Linked DNA regions of Homo sapiens: region 1 is linked to region 2. The links come from fine-mapping of genetic effects on plasma protein levels. A gene starts in region 2. The other region holds a variant in brackets. All regions are shown on one strand. Distances are from middle to middle.

Region 1 (2,912 bases), 25 kb after region 2:
GCCCTTTCAAAGGACTGGAAGACAGTCAAAATTAAAATTAGAACCCTACTAACCAGAGTTTATTTTGTTATTATTTCTTTTCTGAAACTTCTTGGGGACTTGTAGCTCAGAGCTGTGTTACAACCCCCATTACCACACCCAGAGATATGTGGCCTGGGAGTTAGTAGAGTCAGGTGCCTTTATGCCATGTTTTGCCATATTCTCTGCATTTCTCAAAAACAAAAACAAAAAAACCCACAACATAGCAAATGCTCCATAAATGTTAAAATTCTTTTTCAAAGGAATGAAGGACAGCACAAATTGCAATTTGTGATGGAGTTTCAGTCTCTCACAAATGTTGCCTAGACATTCGCCTTGTATGAGAACCTGAAGGAACTGAGTTTTTCATTCATATGCTGGGGGAGGCATCACCTCACTGAAAATCAATTCCCTACTATCCTTGTTGATGTCAGGGAAATTATGTCATCTCTCAGAGAAACAGTACAAAAAATTAAGATTTAGTATGTGGAACTGAGATTGTAAAACTACAATCAATTCAGAGTGTTTTGTTTTTGTTCTCTTTATTCCTTACATTGCTTACTGTTAGAATGGAAGTTACAGTTGCTGTTTTCAGATGGCTGTCCTGAATCTATAAGGTAGCCCCCTGAATGACAGATAAGTCACTCTGACCGCCTTTTTTTTTCTCTCCCACTTCTGGACCTCTGCAGGTGTCTGGTTGAGAAGGGAGATGTGGCCTTTGTGAAACACCAGACTGTCCCACAGAACACTGGGGGTAAGTGCACCTGCTCCTCTGTCCCCCTAGATCACTAGATCCTGGTCACTGGTATTCACTTGTATTCAGGGATGCCTTTGTGGAAGTATTATGTACACTGTCAGACTTCAAAGCTCTGATTCTCAGTCTGTCTGCTCAGTGAAGAGAGACATGTTCACCTGAGTGCGCAGAATGATCAGGATTATGGGGCCCCCAATGGCCCTAAATCCTCCCCAACACACACTCCCACAGCTGCAAGCCTTGTGCTCCTTTCCCCTAAATACTTCAGTGCCTATTTCCTAAGAATAAGACAATCTCTTGCATACCCACAGTATGATTACCAAGATCAGGATCTTTTACATTATGTGGATTTAATACTCGTCACGTCCACAGTCCACATTTAACTGTTGTCAGTTATCCCAGTAATGCCTTTTATAGCTATTTACTGTACTTCTGGGTTGTGTCCATTGAGAAGGCCTAGAGGCAATGGCATACCAGCAGGAGTAAGCACCAAGATATTGGCTTGTAAGTACTCTTCTTTACTAAAAGGAACCAGAACTCCTTGGAAAAATAGCTGACTTCAGGGCTGGGGCAGGAAAAATAGATGCTGAGCCTAGAACAACACACTGAAGTGCTCAAACAGTGATGGGACACTCAAAGCATACAAGAACCAATTTGAAGGATCTCCTGTTGCCAAGTCTGGGAATTTTGAGCATTAAAATAAATAATGATAGCAGTAAGGGATAATAGCCCATTGAAAGAAATAAGAATGCATGAGGCAATACTGATTAAACAAATGAAGAAGGGAAAACTAATCAATGTGGAAGGAATGATAGAGTTAGAAAACTATCACTTGGCAACCAATATATTGATAACTGATTCAAGCAAGAATCAATGGGTGTTAAGCCGGGCGCAGTGGCTCACGCCTGTAATCCCAG[A/C]ACTTTGGGAGGCCGAGGCGGGTGGATCATGAGGTCAGGAGATCGAGACCATCCTGGCCAACAAGGTGAAACCCCGTCTCTACTAAAAATACAAAAAATTAGCCGGGCGCGGTGGTGGGCGCCTGTAGTCCCAGCTACTCGGGAGGCTGAGGCAGGAGAATGGCGTGAACCTGGGAAGCGGAGCTTGCAGTGAGCCGAGATTGCGCCACTGCAGTCCGCAGTCCGGCCTGGGCGACAGAGCGAGACTCCGTCTCAAAAAAAAAAAAAAAAAAAAAAAGAATCAATGGGTGTTAACTTGTGGGTGAACGTTGGACAGCCATAATATTAATAAAAACAAACAAAACAAAGCAAAACAAACATTGGCCAGACTGAGCACTCCACACCTGACCCCTCAGTATCACTAAGTGCTAGCAGAGCCCACTGGAATTCAAGCTGTGAATACTTCCCTGCCTTCTCTCATGTTCATTCCCCAACTCCTCACTTTTCCTGGGCAACTCATCCAGAATGAACCGGCTCAGCACCAGCCCCTCCAGGAAGCCTTCCCAGATGGCATACCCTGTCCTACAAGAAGACTCCTCTGTTCATATTGCCATTATGATTGAATTCACCACACTCTGTAATACACTTTGGCTACAGAAACTCTTTGAGCTCTTTTTCTTCATCTTATATTCCCAGAACCTAGTGTAGCACATAGTACACAGCAGTTGCTAAGAATTTGTTTGCAGAAATATTGGGTTGACTAATTTTCCTTTCTTCCCTCGTATTATTGCTTTTTCCTTTAAGAGAGTGTTACCCTAAGCTTGGCTCTTTGCCACCCTTGATTTCTTTTGGTACTTTTCTGAGTAGAGCTCCCTTCTTTAAGCTTTGACTCTCTTACTCTTTGCAATGACTCAAAAATTCTTCCCTCCTGCATAGAATTAAGATAGGAGGCCTGACATCCAATCTCAATTCCATTCCAGTCTATTTCCCAAGGTGTCACTTTTATGTAGAGAGTACATTGGCATTGCAATTGTATTTTTTTACGTGTGTATATGGATGTCCTCATATATTGTAGTTGTATATATACAATCCATATACAACTCAACTGTCCTCATCTTTCTGTCAACGTTCCCTCCTCTTCTCCCAGCCTCTATCCTTATAGAGAATCCTGCTATACTCCCTGCCCATCAGGCCTAGATTAAGTCTGTCAGTCAATATCTTATTTCTTCAAAACGTGTCTTTTT
Region 2 (2,912 bases):
ATGTAACCCCTTTGCATATGAGATAATCTTTTGGAGTGTGGGAGAACATAATCTAACTTCCAGTTATATTTATTGTTATTGCAAAAGATTAACAAATTATCATTCATTCATATTGAATGTGTGAATTGGCCCTATCTCCCACCTGAGTCTGCAGTCATGACAGATGGAGCCTTTCAGGTGTCCTAAGGGAAGATGGGGTTCACCTCACAATGCTAAAGGTGAAAAGGGGAGTGCCGACCCTGCCCTTTGTTTTGGCATTTTTATTTCCATACTTTGTGGTTTGTATGTGCCCAGTTAAACGGATGTACAGATTAGATAATCTGGCTTTAACTCCAACCTTCACGAGATGCACACATGCCTTAAAAAGATTCTTACAAAGAAACTAGAATTAGGAGACAATTCTGACAACACAAAAACAAGTGAACAAAAATCAAATGACTGACCTGACGTGTCCACTAGGCTTGATATGAGCTTGGTCAACTAAAACATGAGACAGAATGAATGACCATCTGGTCAGGTTGGATAAGAAGTAACTTTTGGCAAAATCTCTGAAGTCTGGATTTACACTTCGTGGAAGGAATCTTGACCTTTCCCCAAGTATATTATGCCTTGAGATAATAATCCTGTATAAGGCCGCATAAGCAAAACGACATTTGAAAATGAGTTTCATCTTTAGCTCATCCTTTTACAAATTTCTATTCCTTGTGCATGATTGAAGTGTACACATTTTTTAGTTAAAATATAAGCATATAGAAGGCACAAGTTCAATATTTTTCATGATAAGGATGTGTAATTAAACTGGTTAGGAGACTCATCGACTAGAGGGGGACATGGTGGCCCCAGGCTGTAAGAACAGGCCACACCGTCCACTGGGCCGCTTGCTTTGTGCTAAGATGACACTTTGTTCTGAGCCTCACAGTGTCTTGACCATGTTCCTGGAACCTTCTTGTTGGAGGGAGTTCATCTTCCCCTATGACTCTGTCCCTAGTCTAAGGTGTCCCACAGGAAGCTTGAGGGCGGGAAGTTTTCCAGCCCAGGAGCCTGAGCTCAGCGGGGCAGGAAGAGGGAGCAGCTCCTCCGTGGGGGACCTTTGAGAGCCCAGGAGCAGGATTTCGAGGGACACCTGGTGGGGAGCAAAAGGTGCTGAGTCTGTCTTTGACCTTGAGCCCAGCTTGTTTCTCCTGCATCCTCCCCCAAAAGGGGCTTTGCCTGTCATTCTGCAGTTCTAGTGTGGGGTCTGGGCGCAGTTCTTTTCCCTCTCCAGCCTCGGAGTCTTCCTCTGTGGACTGCGCAGATAGGACTGGTGGCACGGACCAGCTCTGCAGCCCTGGAGTCAGGAGCAGAGCCCCCCGGCTCCCAGCCCGCCGTAGCCGCTCCTGGCACCGAGCGAGCCGCGATGACAATGGCTGCATTGTGCTTCATGTCCCTTCCCATCAACATTTCTGTGCTGGACTCCTTCCACTCGCGGGTCGTCTCCAGAGCTCAGAAAATGAGGTGATCAGTGGGACGAGTAAGGAAGGGGGGTTGGGAGAGGGGCGATTGGGCAACCCGGCTGCACAAACACGGGAGGTCAAAGATTGCGCCCAGCCCGCCCAGGCCGGGAATGGAATAAAGGGACGCGGGGCGCCGGAGGCTGCACAGAAGCGAGTCCGACTGTGCTCGCTGCTCAGCGCCGCACCCGGAAGATGAGGCTCGCCGTGGGAGCCCTGCTGGTCTGCGCCGTCCTGGGTGAGTGCGGGCACGGGGTAGCACCGCAGAGTCGCTGGCCCGCGCGTTCCCTGCAACCCGGGCGGCCACCGCGCAGCCTGCATGCACTCCGCGCTCAGGCTGGAAGCCTGGGTGTCTGGGTGCCTTTCCATTGCCTCTCTACGCCCCACCCCTGGCCTTTGCTTGGGCTTCTAGACACCTTTCACTGCACTCACTGTCTTCTCCCCCTCCTCCTCTTTGTCCAGTAAATCTTGCAGCAGTGAAATACAATAAATCAGAGCACGTCTAACCAGGTTATCAAAACCCTTTGCTGCTGCCTCTTGTCAAGTCCGAACTCCTTAGCATGGCATTCAAGGCCTCCCGGGTCTGACCATTCCCCTTTCAGAGGCTGATGTCCCCTGGGTGCCCTGGGAGCTGTAGATGTCCTGCCAAGGAAGCGGTGCCATCGAGCGGTCAGAGCATGGGGTTTGAAGCCAGACTTCTTGGATCCAAGTCCTGGCCGGCTCCTCACCAGGGAGGGGGTCATCACAGCACTTGCCTGGGAGGGTCAAATGAGGGTCAGCGAGGTGGCAGATGCTGAGTACCAGTGGCAGATGTTGCACACATCCTGCTATGGGGCAGTGGCTGACGCCACACTCCCCGACCTCCTGAGGTGGGGCCCCCTTCATACTCTAACTTCTGCCTGCCATTCATGGGGCATTTGTCACACTGTTGGGGCTTCCACGTTTAGTTTTCTCTCCCCATAAGCTAGCAATTCCTTGAGAGAGGACCCCACGTTACTTGCCTTTATCCCCGCACAGAGCACTTCACAGGCTGTGCAAGGTAATGCTCCACTGAGGACACATTCTCGCCTATGGGAACTCTGGAGGCAGGGCTTTGTGGAGGGGCTGCCACAGGCTTATGTTGCCTCCTAGGATTTCCCATGGGCCAAGAGGGAAAATGGGGGTCGCTGGGGTGGCCATCCCTGGTGGCCCCTCCTCATGCATCCTGGAGAGCTGTGGGCCTCCTCTCCACAGGCTTTGTGGATCTTCTTCAGAGCCAGTGAGTCAGCCTTGCTGTGGTGGCCCACAAGGAGTGGAGATGACAGAGGGCCTTGGGGACAGGGCAAAAGCTCATGTGATAGGGATGCTGTCTCTGCAACCACATGGATTTTAATAGTTACCCATGGCTGGCTTCAGCTTTTTTTGTGAATGGCAGCCAAAAAG

Alleles and levels. Alleles are on the strand shown, and positions count from the first base shown. The strength of an association depends on the size of the effect and on how common the allele is.
In carriers of allele A in region 1, the plasma level of the protein whose gene starts at base 1,638 in region 2 tends to be lower than with C alone (moderate association).

The links. PIP is the chance, under the fine-mapping model, that this variant and not a neighbour inherited with it causes the effect. The UK Biobank Pharma Proteomics Project read protein levels with antibody pairs (Olink). The fine-mapping took linkage between variants from a reference panel, not from the people measured, so its PIPs are less certain.
Region 1: its variant is fine-mapped to the plasma level of the TF protein (UK Biobank, PIP above 0.99).

Annotation. Positions count from the first base shown.
Region 1 is chr3:133,769,801-133,772,712 of GRCh38, forward strand. It overlaps TF (transferrin), which reads left to right. Exons shown (of 17, transcript NM_001063.4): 14 at 708-772. Among named protein-coding and RNA genes, the nearest start is that of TF, 25 kb to the left of the region's middle. The variant A/C (reference allele first, on the strand shown) is at 1,690.
Region 2 is chr3:133,744,756-133,747,667 of GRCh38, forward strand. TF (transferrin) reads left to right here and starts at 1,638. Exons shown (of 17, transcript NM_001063.4): 1 at 1,638-1,728. The coding sequence starts at 1,686.